Linked DNA regions of Homo sapiens: region 1 is linked to region 2. A link means that fine-mapping ties the variant in region 2 to the expression of a gene that starts in the linked region. Tissue or cell type: pancreas. Region 2 holds a variant in brackets; the other region holds the start of a gene. All regions are shown on one strand. Distances are from middle to middle.

Region 1 (8,144 bases), 660 kb after region 2:
AAAGGGGACAAGCTTAATACCAAATTGACGTCTGAGCCCTTATTTAATTGCAGATATTTAATGTGGACCCTTAGAGTTAAGTGACACCTACAAGATCACTTTTTGATTTGGAAAAGTTCATGAAAGGATGGTCACGAAAGAGGCCATGTTCACCACACAGGTTGCTAAAATGGACAAAAAGCCCAATTCCAGATTCTAAGTCATGACCCACTTCCCAAAATATCAACAGAATTGACAGGTTATTGGCATTAACTTATTCCTTCGTGCATGAAAGCTTCATGAATTAATCAAAAGCAGCTTTAAATTTGCTTTTAGTTCAGGAGGTTTTTAAAACAGGCTATCAGACTAGGAAATTAGTGCTGTACACTCGCTTTCCACAGCTCTTGAACATGAACATAAAATTAAATATACAAAGCTTGGGTAGAGGCAGTTTTGTGAATATCACCCATCGTAGGTCGACTACTCAAAAAAGGCTGAAAAAGGACTTGACATCCTCTAGTGGTGATGTCTTAAACTTGTTTCCAAGGCAATTTTTTTTTTCCCAGCTCTTAACTTTGGCTGTTGGCAAGAAAAATATTATATTGGAAGAACTTTTCATCCTCAAGAAAAATAAATGTTTTCGCCACAAAGAATGTGATTTGACTAACTTTGAGAATATATACCCACAGAAATAGGGTTTTTAAATGTTGGGTTTATATAATAGCTTTCAATATGCTTAAGAACGGTCTCATTTCATAGGCCACACGCCACCACTGTCAATTCATCTTTGATACACATATACACACACACACACTCACACATATAATTCTGAACACATTACAGGTATCATTTTTATAATAACCTGATATTCTCATCTAAAGTGCCCTAAAATTAGACCAGTCTTTGTATAGAGACCCAAAAACTAAGAGTTATTTAAGAGTGGACTCTACCTCATAATAATGAGTTCTAAAAAGAAATAAAATTAATCCCTCAAGAAATGTTGCCATTTAAGGTGGCAATTTTCAACTCTTGATGGTAATAGTTTCTCTGTCCACGGCCACCCACCACCACCACCCCCCCCCACCCCCCCAACAATTCCATACAAACTTCTGATTGTTTAAAAAAATGAGACTTGCAGTATTTGGATGTGTATAATGTGAAATATGTTCACCAGAATGAAGTGCTAAATTAAAGTCTCATATTCAGATATAGGTCATGTGTTTTAAATATATGGAATAACTTAAGTTGTTGAAATTCAAACAATCTCACTTGTTCTCTCAAAATAACTACCACCTAGATTCAAAAAAATACATTTACACCTTCCTTCTTTCTTTGGCACCTGCTGACACAAATGCTTCTGAACACTAAAAACATTAATAGTAATCTTGGGGTAGAAAAATAGGAAAGAGATGCGGGGCCAGAATTAAGTTTTCAGTGAAATTATAAAGTATAATTATTCAAGACCATATATAAAAAATGTCCTTTGGAAAATGAAGTTTTTAGGCAAAAGTGTGGAAGAAATGTTTTCTATGAAGGAGATAACAGCCAATTTAACTCCCTTTTTAATAAAAGAAAATATTACACTGACAGGCACATGGTTGATTTGTATATTAATTGTTGGAAGCACGGCCTATTCCTTAACATGCTCAGGCACTGAATATCCTACAGTTTGTAGTCAGTTCACTTATGTCTGAACAAGTTGTTCACGTGCAGATTCTAGAAAGTTTATTTTTGAGCACAAACTAACACTTAGCTCGCTAGAACAATGTTGTTTCACATGCAGTTACTGGGTCAGGGTTAGGAACGAAAATCATGCCGTATATTTACAAATGAGGATGCTCCTCTCCCGGGGCCCTCACTTGGGGGAGCCCCGTCCCAGCGTCTAGCTCATCAAATTCCCGAAAGCAATTACAAAGGCATCTCTTCTCCACCCCAAAACAAAATAATGATCTACCAATCTTGCGAACACATTAAGACAAACTCCCTACAGGAAGGAGCATGACTTAAACAAGTTCAAGATACTTTGTCAGTCTTAACCTCAGGTATCTTGGCTGAAGGGATTAAATCATTAGACTTTACGTACCCAACCTCTTCCTAGCAATAGCAGATACATAATTTGCAAATACTGTTTCAGAGCTCTCTGGACCTTTCACGTTAAAATAAGCATACTTGATGGTGGGGAGACAGTGATTCTTACATTTAGGAAACAAATGCTTCCGATTGTGACCGTATGGAAGTGGAAAACAGCTTGCAATTGGAGAGTCTAAGAATTGAATTTCTTTTTAAAGTAAGAAACTGCCTCACTGCCCCCATCCCCAAGTGTAGGAAGATATAGAAACAGCTTACTGGCCAAGAATAGAAGAGGGAACCAGTGGAGAGGGACGGATTTGCAAGATAGCCTCTGGAGAAAAAAAAATCACGAGGGAGAAAAATCGGCTTCATACTATGGAGAGATGGGCGGGGTTGGGAAGCCTTGCTGCTGGTCTTGGGAAGCCTTGCTGCTGGTCTTGGGGACGTGATCCCCTGTCCCTAAGTGTGCCCCTGGAGGTTGTGGGGGAGGGGTATCCTCAACACAGAGGCCTGACCACCAAATCCCGGGCTGCAGAGCCAACAATCCTCCTTTGGGCTCCTGCACAGACTAAAAACAAAAAACTCTGAGAACTCCGACAAGTCAACGAAAGTCTGATCCCGTCAAGCCCGCACTCGCAAACCCCCACCGTGCTGCACTGGGCCCCGGCCCTCCCGAGCTCGGTCCCCTCGGACGACGGTCGTCGCCACTGCGGGCACCAGATTGGGGGGCGGGCCGCTCACCCCGCGGTCCTGCCCCACACCGACCCCGCTGAGGAGCCCCCGGCACCCGGGGCGACCAGGGAAGGCGGGAGGAGGTGCCCAGAAACTGCTCGTCCTGCCAGTCGCACCTGGCCGACGACTCTCTGGCCACTGGTTTGGTCTGGGGGATACGATTTCCCATTCAACTGAATTAGACCCGAGGCCGCGGCGGGGAGGGCAGCGGCCGGGGTCTCTCCGTTTCCTCCCCCGGCTCGCCTCCACCTGTTGCGGGAAAGTCGCGGTGGAGCGCCCGAGGGCGGCCGCAACCCCGGCCGGGGCCGAGCCGGGCTGGCCGAGCCGCGGCGGCGAAGGGCGGGGGAAGGCGCTCTCGGAGCAGGGTGCGCGGCGCGCAGGGCCGGTTGTTCCGGGCCGCGGCCGCGCGGGCGGGGAGGGGGCTGCCGGCGCCGGGTGATTTCGGTGCCAGCCCGCCGGCCCCGCTCGCCGTCCCCTGCCCGACGGGACCCCCACTATCCCCGCTGTGCGGTCACCTGTTTCGCTTCGCACTGCGCCGTCGCCGCCCCTGTGGCCGTCGCCGCCAGCTCCTAGCTCCGCCATGGTGCTCCGATGACGCGCCCGGAGAGCCGCTCCGCCCTTTCCTCGGCTTGGCTCCCGCCGGCCCCCGCCTCCCAGGCCAGCGGCCCAGACAGGTGAGCGCAGTCCGGGGATGGCGGAGGGCGGGGACAGAGAGCGCGGCAGTCGGCTGCGGCCTGGGCCTGGCGCGCCCCCTCGCGGGCAGGTGCGGCGTGGCAGCCGCTCCGACCGCCGCTGCCGAGTCTCGGCTGGAAGAGCGGCGGGCGGAACCAGTACCTCAGTCCGGAGCTTCCGGTCGCCGCGGCCGACCAGCTGAGGGCTCCCGGAGATATGGAGCGGGGTCAGCGAGGCCTGGTGGCGCCTCCTGGAGTCTGGGACGAGCGGCGGTCCGAGGAGCAGCCCAGGTGGGGCGAGGGTACGGAGACGCTATTTCCCTCCGAACTCTGAAGTAGCCAGGTCAGTGTCGGCTCCGCGAGGGCTGGAGTTCACGGTGACAGCCGGCAGAGCATCTGATGCCACGTGGAGAGGCGAAGTACATGGGTCGGATTCCACGCTGGGAGCCGGCCTGGATCTGCGCTTTAGGAAGCCACTGCGGGCGACCCTATCTTGTCGCCAGGACTTCGCATCTGATGAGCCTCAGGGCACACAAGTTAGAGAGGCTTGTGCCGGCTGATGTGGCTTTTCTTTTTCTTAGTTTCCGTTTAGTAAACGACCTTGTGACTTCTGGCTTGCTCAGGAAGACCAGAAAAAAAGGCAATAGGTAACGAATTTTTCTTTTTTTAAAGAAACAGATTATTGGCCGAGGAAAAACCAATTTCGCTCTAAAGGATAAGCAACAAAATACTGAGGGGGGAAAAAGCCTACACAAATGGAAACATACGGCACAAAATCAAGGAGCGACCAGTTCCGCATGGTTACACTAAAATGCACTGCACTCCCACTCTCTGGCTTGGCTGAAGATAACCAGCAAGCTCTGAACAGTTTAAAAGCCTTCCAAGGACTGCAGCAGCACTGGACACACAAGAGAGTCGAGAACAGTATTGGATTTATTGTTAGGGTTACAATTTTCACGATCTTTGCATGCAAAACTTGCCACTCTGAGCCCAGTGAACTATTTTTATTTGGTTTACTTACTGGCTTTCTGGATGACTAGGTAGAGCTTTAACTAAAGAACACTTCTGCTGTGGTCTGTGATGATGAATTTTCCCGTAGTGTCATTTCTATAATGGAATAGGCAAACTGACCATTTAGAATGTGATATTCCTAAATCACATTCAAATCAGTCTTATCAGAGACTTCTAATCAATAAAAATAAAGCACCAGATGGCTAGAGGTAGTTTTTGACCTCAGCTTGGGCCTCAGCAAAGATTTTTTGTGTTTTTTTTAACTACATTAAAACATCAGAGTTTAAGACACTTTTCTTTGAGCATCAGAAATACTCTCAGCTGAATTTAGAGTTGAACTATCCGGAAGAACCCTGGAGAAGGAGGGTGATTTATTTTCAACTTTCTGATTTACCACCGACTTAAATCAACCAATGAGTTCTTTCTTTGACCAAAAAAAAAAAAAAAAAAAAAAAAAAAAAAAAAAAAATTCAAGACTTGTGATGTTTCTATTTGTTTTGTTTTGTTTAGTTTGGTGTGTGCTTACTCATTGTCCCATTCTTTTGATAACCTGTATTTATCTGCCACAAGTTAAACAAAAATAAATGAAATAAGGAACACACCAAAATCCTGCACTTAGGCCCTGTATAGACAGTGTGTTCCAAACCTAAGGAGGTGTCTGCAACAGGGGAGGCTGCTGAGTGACTCTGCAGAGAACAGATGACATCTGTTAAATGTCAAACACCATCACGTCGTACTTCAAGTTGTACTTTACTTGGAACATGGAAGCCATCTGTCTGGAGCTCCCACATCCATTTCAAATCTTCAGGGTTCCCCATTCCAGGGGAGGAGCTGAACCTCCTGACACCGTCCACTTCCCTCCTGCCTCCTTCAAACATCATCCCTTTTTTCTCCCGAATCCCTAAATGTTTCTGCACCCAAGGGCTCTACCCCAATAAACACAGCTAAGACTCTTTGATTCTTAAAATGTCTTCCTTTAACGTCCCACCCTCCAGAATCTATTGTCGTATGTTTTGTTCACCAAAGGTAATAAAAATAAATGTGGATTTTGGTGCCGTTATTTTTCAAAAAAAGCTATATATTAATAGTTTTTCTTGCTTATGTATACAAATCAAATTACTTATTTTTAAATCCATCATTCCCCTAGAGTTTCTGCAGCACTTGATCCTCTAATCACCTTGCTCTTGGTCTACCATTGGCTTGGTTTTTCTCCTTCCTCTGTAGCAGTCCTTTCGTCTTTGTTGACTCAGATTCTTCCTCCCTTCTAATCCTCCAATATTTTTACCATCCCCTAATTGTAAACCACAGGCTTTTTATCTTTACTGTCTCTCACAGCCCTCATTTACTATTACTTCCATCCCGGATCCTGGTGACTCCCAACTCCAGAATATATACCCTTAACCTCACTCCTGACTTCCACTAATACATTCTGAATGGTCCCTGCACAATTCTATCAAGATACCCTGCTGTTAATTTAATATGTTCCAAACCACATTAATCTTGCAATATACAATCACTTTACACATACCTCTCCCTTGCTCAAAAACCTTTAATAGATTCCCCGTTCCTATATAAGTAAATATTAACTTCACCTCCTCACCATCACCACCACCACCCCCTAATTGGGCCCTGAGCTCTCTACTACCCATTTCCACTTTTCACCTCTGTAACTCATATTTCTAGCCCATGGAGTTGTTCATTCTCCAGAACACCTTCCAAATCCCTGCTTTCTAGTCTTTGTGCTTGAAGCTGCTCTGCCCGAAGTGATGTCCTTCATCCTGACGTATTTAATAATACTTTCCCTTTGAGGCCCAGGTTAAGGTCTACTTCCTCCATGAAGCCTGTTCTTCCTGCCCTGGCTCCCAGCATGCCTGTCCTTTGGACCTGGCCAGGGCTTGCTGGGCTTGATACTTGTCCAGCTGTTAAAATAGACTAGGCATGAGTTATTGCAAATTTGCCTTCTCAATCTGATGCACATTTTTGGTAGTAGGGTCTTTGTCCTCTACTTCTCTACAGGGTGTCCATAAAGTCTAGAACTATCAGTTATTTTATTTGTTCACGAGTTGCAGATGTTCTTGATGACATCATGTGCACTGCCTGCATTCTGAACTTGGTAGGCATGGTATATATCTTTTGTGTTGCTACCGTGCCTCACACACAGTGGGCATTCAAATGGGTTAATAATTCCTCAATGCCAAGCTTTTTTATGTGGTGGCCTAGGGATGAACGAAACCAAGTATCCAATGACAGAAGAAAGAGATCAAAATGCAGTTAAAAGGAAACATTAGATCTACTTCTCCCAGCAAATTCCTGTTTTGTTTCTTTTATAACACTGCCACCACCCCTGCATTAACTGTTCTGTTTCAAACCATCTTTCCAGGCTCAGCTCTGCACCTTCACTCCTCTGGAAAGCTTTCCTTGACCCCTTCTGACAGTAAATGTAACTATAGCACTGACTGCACCACTGTTGTTTCTGCTTTGTCTTGATTCCTTGACAAGAAACTTCAGGGGAAAGAACTGTATCTTGTTGGTGCACCACAATATGTAGTACCCAGTATTTAATAAATACTTTTGAATGAAGGATAAGTGATGGCAATAGCAAGCATATCTCAGTGTTTACTGTATGCTAAGCATTGTGCTGAGCACCTCTCCTGCATTGTCTTTTCCTTTTTGAGACAGAGTCTTGCTCTGTCGCCCAGGCTGGATTGCAATGGCGTGATCTCGGCTCACTGCAACATTCACCTCCTGGGTTCAAGCAATTCTCGTACCTCAGCCGCCCGAGTAGATGGGATTATAGGCGTGCGCCACCACGCCTGGCTAGTTTTTGTAATTTTAGTAGAGACAGGGTTTTGCTGTGTAGGCCAGGCTGATCTTGAACTCCTGGCCTCAAGTGATTCACCCACCTCGGCCTCCCAAAGTGCTGGGATTACAGGCACAAGCCACTGCGCCCAGCCTCCATTTTCTTATTTACATCTTATAGCAGACCTATGTGGAAGGTACATCATTTCCTCCATTTCACAGATGAGGAAGCTGAGACTTGGAGAAACTAATTCAGTTGTTCCAGGTCACAAGTCAAGTTACAGTTTTGCTTCAGGCCTGGGTGTGTAGCCTCCTGCTACGCTAAACAAATGATGAACGTTAACCATCTTGCTATTCCCTCTATAGAAAGGGGCTCTCCATTTCCCTCTCTAGCTGTTACCTGAAATAAGGAGGTGAAGCTTGATCATGTTAAAACACCTGTGAAACTAATTTTTAAAAAGGGTATCTGGGCCCAACCCCAGACCAGTAAAAACAGTTTTCCGGCTGGACACAGTGGCTCATGCCTGTAATCCCAACACTTTGGGAGGTTGAGGCAGGATGATCACTTGAGCCTAAAAGTTCGAGACCAGAGTGAGCTGAACATAGTAAGACCTTGTCTCTACAAAAAATTTAAAAATTAGCCAGACATGGTGGTGCATGCCTGTAGTCCCAGCTACTTGGGATGCTGAGGTGGGAGGACTACTTGAGCCCAGGAGGTCAAGAATGCAGTGAGCTATGACAGTGCCACTGCATTCTAGCCTGGGTGACAGAGACTCTGTCCCAAGAAAAAACAAATAACAACAACAACTCAGTTGTCCCAAGGTGGTGGCATCAATATTTTTGAAAAAGCATCCAAGTCATTTTAATGCGAAGCTGAGTTGA
Region 2 (8,000 bases):
CATCACACCAACATCTGTTGTTTTTTGTCTTTTTAATAATAGTCTTCTTGCAGGAGTAAGGTGGTATCTCATTGTGGTTTTCATTTGCATTTCCCTGATGATCAGTGATGATGAGCATTTTTTCATATGTTTGTTGGCTGTTCGTAAATCTGTTGAGAAATGCCTATTCATGTCCTTTGCCCACTTTTTGATGGGATTATTTGTTTTTCTTCTTGCTGATTTGTTTGAGTTCCTGTGGCTTCTGGATACTAGTCCTTTGTTGAATCCATAGTTAATATTTGCAAAGATTTGCTGAGCATTTATACTGTGCAAGACCTTTTGTTAGAGGCTGGAGATATAACAATGAGTCTTGCTTTCAGTACTTTATAATTGCTCTGCAGATTAACTGTACAGACTTAAAATAATTTTCCCTAACCTGTAACCCTACCAGAAAAATAATTAAGAGAATATGAAAGGATCTGCTTAAATCAGAAAAGTGAACGTATCAGTTAGACTAAGTAATGATGGTGAACCCAATATTGACAAAGATACTAAATATACACTTAAGTTTGATATTTATTTAAATGTTGTGTACTGTATTCTGCTTTCAAAATTATTAAGCAAAGATTTGTCCTTAGTAGTTACCCAGTATTTACAGAGAATATATTAATTAGGGGCTTTATTTTATTGAAAAGGCTTAATTGGCTATGCAAATCTACACCCTCTCAATTATCTACATTTGGAGCAAGTTTACTTAGTTGGTCTAAATAAGCATAATTTGTGGCAGTTACCTTGGTGTTGTCAAATCTAAACCTTTAAACAAAAAATAAATCTCATGTGACCTTTTCTGAATGAATTCTCATTGTTTCTAGCAGCCACCTCAATCTTTCAGCCCAATGTTTAGATTCCCCTGTAATCCAATCATGATTTACCTTTTGACAGTTTACTCCCTACTACTCCCCAATTCTTTGTTCTACTGCGCTTACTATTTCCCTGGACATATATTTGTGATTATTTACATCATCTTTCATCTTGCTATGTCATCTCTTAATTCTCTCCAACTATAGTACTATTGGCATTTAACAAATTCTTACTACCTGTGAACTACTGCATTGAGTGCTTTTGCCTATATTATCCCACGTAATTGCTATGATACCTCTATGACCTCAGTGAGTTTCGTTTTAAAGACTTTTATAAACTGAGGCTTACAGACACTGAGTAACCTCTTTACAAGAAGAGGACTACTTAGTAAAAAAGAGGACTAAGTAACCTGCTCAAGGTCACACAATTAGTGTGACCTTCAGTTAGTTATTGAACCCAGATCTAACGGCAAATCTAGGTACCTAACCATTATGTTCTGCTGCTTCCAAGGACTTAGAGCTATGCTACTGGATAATTATCTTTGGGACCTCAGATAAAGTAACTGACATTTCTGAGCTCCAATAAAGCTGAAATACACACGTGTGTGTGTGTGTGCATGTATAACACCTTAAATAGGTGTGCATGTATAACACCTTAGAATAGGTTCTTGTTATTTTATTTATACTTATTATAGGTATAAAATATAGGTATAAAATAAACATCACTGTTCTGGACTATTTAGAAATATAGATCCAAGAAGAACAACTAATGTCGACAGTAGGTGTACTAGTTTAAAAAATAAATATTATAAAAAATAAGTAGTATAAAAAATAAATATTATAGGTATAAAATAAACATCACTGTTCTGGACTATTTAGAAATATAGATCCAAGAAGAACAACTAATGTCAACAGTAGGTGTAGTAGTTTTGGTTTTCTGTGTTTATAAATATTTTTTCTAATTATATAATTCTGGTGTCCAGAAGATAAATGTGATTAATATAATCTACCACAAGCACATGCCCTTAAGGAAAACAAGCAGAAATAAAACAATAAGAAATACTATAAATACATCTAAAGTTGTGTGATTTCTATAAGTTACAAGTGAATTTTACTAAATATCTAGTCTAGATGATTTTCCCAGTGATTCATCCCTAACTTCAGTTTTGAGCAGAAATTCAGTTCTAAAGTTTGCCTAATAATATAAATGGAATCTTTTACTCAGCAGGTTGATCTTCCAGGGGTCATGCCCAGTTAATAGATTCTTGAGGACATCTTTAAATTCTCTTAAATTCTAAAGGAATCCTGAGGTTTGAATACAATGACCCACCAACAGATACCCCAGGCCTATGTTAGAGTATAGGTCTAATGTGACTCAGGCTCTCACTGAACCACCTTCAACCTGACCTGGGAAGACCCTGGCTCTCTAGATCCACCATGTCCAGCTGTCTCCAGCTGAACAATTTTTTTTTTTTTGACAGAGTCTTACTCCGTCACCCAGGCTTCTGACCTCAAGTGATCCGCCTGCCTTGGCCTCCCAAAGTGCTGGGATTACAGGTGTGAGCCACCGCACCCGAATGGTGCTACCAATTTTTTTTTTTTTTTTTTTTTTGAGATGGAGTCTCACTCTGTCATCCAGGAGTGCAATGACGCAATCTCGGCTCACTGTAACCTCCACCTCCTGGGTTCAAGTGATTCTCCTGCCTCAGCCTCCTGAGTAGTTGGGATTACAGGCGCCCACCACCAGGCCCAGCTAATTTTTGTATTTTTAGTAGAGACGGGGTTTTGCCTTGTTGGTCAGGCTGGTCTCGAACTCCTGACCTCAGGTTATCCGCCCACCTCAGCCTCCCAAAGTGCTGGGATTACAAACGTGAGCCACCGCACCCAGACGGTGCTACCATTTTTTTTTTTTTTTTTTTTTTTGAGATGGAGTCTCACTCTGTCACCCGGGAGTGCAAATGACGCGATCTCAGCTCACTGCAACCTCTGCCTCCTGGGTTCAAGCGATTCTCCTGCCTCAGACTCCTGAGTAGTTGGGATTACAGGCACCCACCACCACGCCCAGCTAATTTTTGTATTTTTAGTAGAGACGGGGTTTCACCATGTTGATCAGGCTGGTCTCGAACTCCTGACCTCAGGTTATCCGCCCACCTCAGCCTCCCAAAGTACTGGGATTACAGGCATGAGCCACCACACCCAGATGGTGCTACTTTTTATATCAGTCTCAGTGTGTGAATTGGGCAGGGACATGAGTGTACCAATTGTTTGATGTATATAATTATTTTCTACTTCGTATGATACATGATTCACAATAATTTACAAACTGATAAAACAATAACATTTTAAAAAATGAATTTCCATTATTAGAGATTTCTGAAGAAACATAATGTTGGGATATGGTGGACAAGCGAAGAATTTCCTTACAAAATTATTCTTTACTCTCTGATTGTTTTAACACCGTAAGTTTATCAGACAGGTTCTAGATATTTCCTATGGTACTTAGAGCCACATGCAGATTGTTTGTGCGTTCAAACTGGTCAAAGTTGCGGACCAGAGTGCTGCTATTGATTTGTTTCACTCCGGTGAATGTAAATCATTCATGTTTGGCAGCATTTGTCCTACTGGAGATAAAACATAAGGAATATGTGCACAGCTTCAAAGGTGCAGCTTGACTGTGATGGTAACCCAGCACGCAGTGGGTATGACTGGCATTTTTGAGAATACATCATAAACTCTCCAAGGAGTCTGCACCATCTTCCCTGAGATCATTATATATCCACCAAAATGAGGAGAAGGAGAAGAATGTGGCAAGAGATCAAAAGAGGCAGTCACTATAAACTCACCTATTTTGTTGATGCAAGGCAAGTTGCACTAAGTTTAGGAAAGCAAAAAGATACTCTTCGAGGTCCGGGGAGGAAATGCAGAAACTGCTAATGGGAAAACGAGCATGGTCCATATAGGACTCTGATATTAGAGTTGTTTTTTTTCTACCGAGGCTGCTCTACCCATGAGTATCCCCATCTTCAAGAAACTACTAAAAGTTGAAGTGTTTATTCACGTGTTATTTTCGAACAGTTAACTGTATAAAAGAAAGGCATATTTTCTTTTCCTGCATCCATAAGCCATGTGCCAAAAAAGCTCTTGTTTAACATGCTTCTTAGGATTAAAAGGGTTTCTGCTGCAAACAGGTCTGAATTACATACGCATCTTAAACATGCCTCAGCTTTAAAGGGACACATTCTTCAAGTGAGGCTGCATTTACAGGCGCAATAGATTTTTCCCTCGGCATAAGCCAAAGAGCAGAGACATACTTTAATATTTCTGACAAGATCTGAACTATAATATTGTTCTGTTTGGAAAATTAGGCTTCAAAGCAGAAGCCATACATTTATTTTCAAGATGAGAACCCAAAGAGTAACAAAAATGATTAGAAAAAGAATCTGAAAGAGTGAGACTCATTAAAATGAAAATCTTTGTGTTGATGACTGCATATAAAATCATAGATCATTAGGGCTAAAGGAAGAATGTATTTGCCAGATGTTGAAATGGCAAGATAGTTTCATCTCTCCCTACCATCTGTTAAGAATTCCATCCACAGGTCTCATTAATAATCCTTGGGAAAACAAGGCAACCTTCAGGAGCATTGGGAAAATTATGGATGCATTATAATGAAGTCAGAGCAAAACTGAGGTGAGAAATTCAAACACCTTCTAAACGCGGAGCTCCTAACCAGTGGTCCACGCCAGAATCATCTGAACACAGTGTTTCAAAATGTGCATTCTCAGGCTCCACTGCCAGCC[A/G]TTTTCATTCATTTGGGTGTGGAATGAAACCTAGGCATATGAATTTTGAAAAAGCCTTCCAAGTGATTTTGATGATAATTCTGGTTAAGAAGAGAAAGCATGTTCTACCTTGTCATTATGTATCTACTACCTTTCCAGTAGATTGCAAACTCTTTTGAAAGGATTCTGTCATATTTACCTTGTGTCCTCTGCTGTCTGTAGCATAGCTGGACTGTAAGCTTGAGGAAGGAAGAGAGCATGCTAGTTTTGTTTATTATCATAATTACTCCTGCCCACCCCTCCCACTCCAGTCCACAGCTAGAAGAGCACATGGTCTATAGTTGGTACCCAAGAAATTGAATTAAAAAAATGAATACTAGGAATTTAATTATATCCATATGGATTTGAATTGATTTTCCTCTTTTCTGATATTATTGTTTACTATGTACCCAGTGAGTTCTCAAATGCTTATTGAGTGAACACACTGAATTTTGGAAGTTAAATATGAGTCACTTTCAGGGGCTTTTGAGTGGTATTTGTAGAAATAAGTCTCATGACTTTATATTCCTGCCCTCTTTCTTTGGGCTTCTATGAAATATATCTTTGGCTTATCCTAGACTTGCTGAGAGCAGCTTAATTATATCGGCTTTCAGAAACGTGAGAATCAACTAATCCAGACTAACAAAACAAGCAGATACAGTTGATCCTGTGACTTCAAGTACCTTCCCAAGTGGCATTATTAATAAATCTTGACTCACAGTACTAGCATAATGCATTATTTTTATAGCTAATGCATCAAAAAGTTATTTGATCCATATGACCATATGATTTCTAAGGTCCTATAATCTGAGTTCTATTCTGAGGAGATATTTCCTATACTTTCTAGTGAAGCATATGAAAGGAAATGAAGCAGTTCTAGTCATTAAATAATTACTTCCATCAGTACATACATAGTATCGGGTAATAGGAATATATTATAATAGCTCACCTCTTCTATATTATTCAAATACCATTTGCTGATAACTGGAAATAAGAAAGAATGCTAAAATTGATTGACATCTAACATGAGTTGTTACTTATTATGGGTCAGCATCGAAGCTCATATATAGAAGAGACGATTTGAAATGTTCAGCTAGCCATCTTCATAGGAATTACAATAAGTTGAATATTTCTCAGTATCTTTAGTAAAGATGCCTATGCCTTATTTACAGTGTATTTGCAATGGACCAAGCTGAAGCTGTATAAATGAGACATATGCTTTGTTTCCATGTTCACTGTTGAACTTATGCTCCAGAAAGTCTTCCTTATTCTCTTCTACCCATAATCTTGCCTCTTTTTGAATCCACATGGCATTGATTTTAGAGCTCATTTGTGCACTTTTCTTGTTCTGTCTTCTTTTAGATTTCTACCAAATTGTAAATACCTATAGGGATAGGAGCCTCTTTTTTTTAATTATACTTTAAGTTCTAGGGTACATGTGCACAACGTGCAGGTTTGTTACATATGTATACATGTGCCATGTTGGTGTGCTGCACCCATTAACTCGTCATTTAACATTAGGTATATTTCCTAATGCTGTCCCTCCCCCCTCCCCCCACCCCACAACAGGCCCCAGTGTGTGATGTTCCCCTTCCTGTGTCCATGTGTTCTCATTGTTCGATTCCCACCTATGAATGAGAACATGCGGTGTTTGTTTTTTGTTCCTTGAGATAGTTTGCTGAGAATGATGGTTTCCAGCTTCATCCATGTCCCTACAAAGGACATGAACTCATCATTTTTTATGGCTGCATAGTATTCCATGGTGTATATGTGCCACATTTTCTTAATCCAGTCTATCATTGTTGGACACTTGGGTTGGTTCCAAGTCTTTGCTATTGTGAATAGCAGGTGCTGGAGAGGATGTGGAGAAATAGGAACACTTTTACACTGTTGGTGGGACTGTAAACTAGTTCAACCATTGTGGAAGTCAGTGTGGTGATTCCTCAGGGATCTAGAACTAGAAATACCATTTGACCCAGCCATCCCATTACTGGGTATATACCCAAAGGACTATAAATCATGCTGCTATAAAGGAGCCTTTCTTAATCATCCTGTGTCTCCTGCTATGATAAGCACATAGCAGGTATCTAATTGTAGACTCTCTGAATTGATAATCACTTATATAGAAATTAATAATGACAATATCTTCTTAATCCCAAGAATAATTACACCATCGTCATTGAAGTGAAAAGAGAACATTTAATTTCAAGTTTTGAAGTCTTTTAAAAATAGATATTATAAGCTGATTTAAAGTAGATCTTTTAACCTGTCACCAAAAGCATTTATTCCAGTTAAAAACTTGATCCGTTTATATATTCATGCATAATTTATATTCCACCCACTTCCAAAAATTAATTGAATAGGCCACTAAGGTGATAGGTGATGCCAGTTAAGGAAATTACTAAAATATCAGTAACAAAACCTACCATAAAAGTTTTATTCCCAAAATCATCTTGGTATTTTTAAATGTTTCTAGGTTAAAATGTTAACCACATCTATATGCTTTATTTCTGTACCAAATAGAGTTTGGGAAGGCTTATTTATTAGACGTTTTAAACTAGTTCCTAGTTTATTATGTGATTCTATCTCAAACATAGCATTTTATATTATTTTTCTTTTAATTGACACTGTTTTGTAAATGTTAAGAACTATAGAGTGAATTTAAATGTATATTTAAAAACCTACGTGAAAGATACTTTAACTCCCGCCTTCAAGTGAATTCAAATAAGGAGAATTCCAAGGAGTGGGGAAATTAGCCAAACACTTTTCCGTCTCAGGAAAGCCATAATAACAAGAATTATAACCTGTTCCTATTTTTCTTAATAGGTGATTTGGGGTAAGGACTCCAAGGAAACAAGAGCGTTCTGTTCTAAGACAGAAACATGAGGCAAATGGAGACAAAAGGAGAGAGGAGACCCCAAGGACAATAGCCTCCCACATTCTCTCCATCCAAGGCACACATGCCAAATTGCATTATTCCAATGAGCTCTGCACAATTAACCTGTCCAAAGGGGTTGCGTGGCTGATGTTTAACTTTCCACCCAGCTACGTTGAAATGTACAGTACATCTTGAACATGTTATTTAAATTGAAAATGAAACATCTGGACACATCAGTACGAGACGGGTCCCACTAAATATGGGAACATGTTTACCCAGGTGGGTTCAATCATAATTTCTACTCCGTGAAATAAAATTTCAATCTCGCCTGCAAAAACTAAAAATTAATTTTAGAGTTTTCTTTAAGGAAATTTTTCTCACAGAAAGAATCATATTTCAATTTTAAATATTGGATAATTTGATCAAATGCCTTTATATTAAATGTGCTAAAAAGGGTTTAAGATA

Evidence for each region. PIP is the estimated chance that this variant, and not a neighbour inherited with it, causes the effect.
Region 1: it holds the start of MAP7, and the variant in region 2 is fine-mapped to the expression of MAP7 in pancreas (GTEx, PIP above 0.99).

Annotation. Positions count from the first base shown.
Region 1 is chr6:136,547,046-136,555,189 of GRCh38, forward strand. MAP7 (microtubule associated protein 7) reads right to left here and starts at 3,377. Exons shown (of 18, transcript NM_003980.6): 1 at 3,297-3,377. The coding sequence starts at 3,363. It overlaps MAP7-AS1 (MAP7 antisense RNA 1), which reads right to left and starts at 5,460. Exons shown (of 1, transcript NR_186370.1): 1 at 3,678-5,460. RefSeq lists enhancers at 2,213-2,751, 3,290-3,827 and silencers at 3,049-3,098, 3,109-3,288, 3,329-3,678.
Region 2 is chr6:135,887,012-135,895,011 of GRCh38, forward strand. All of the region lies in intron 1 of PDE7B (phosphodiesterase 7B), which reads left to right. Among named protein-coding and RNA genes, the nearest start is that of PDE7B, 39 kb to the left of the region's middle. The variant A/G (reference allele first, on the strand shown) is at 4,640.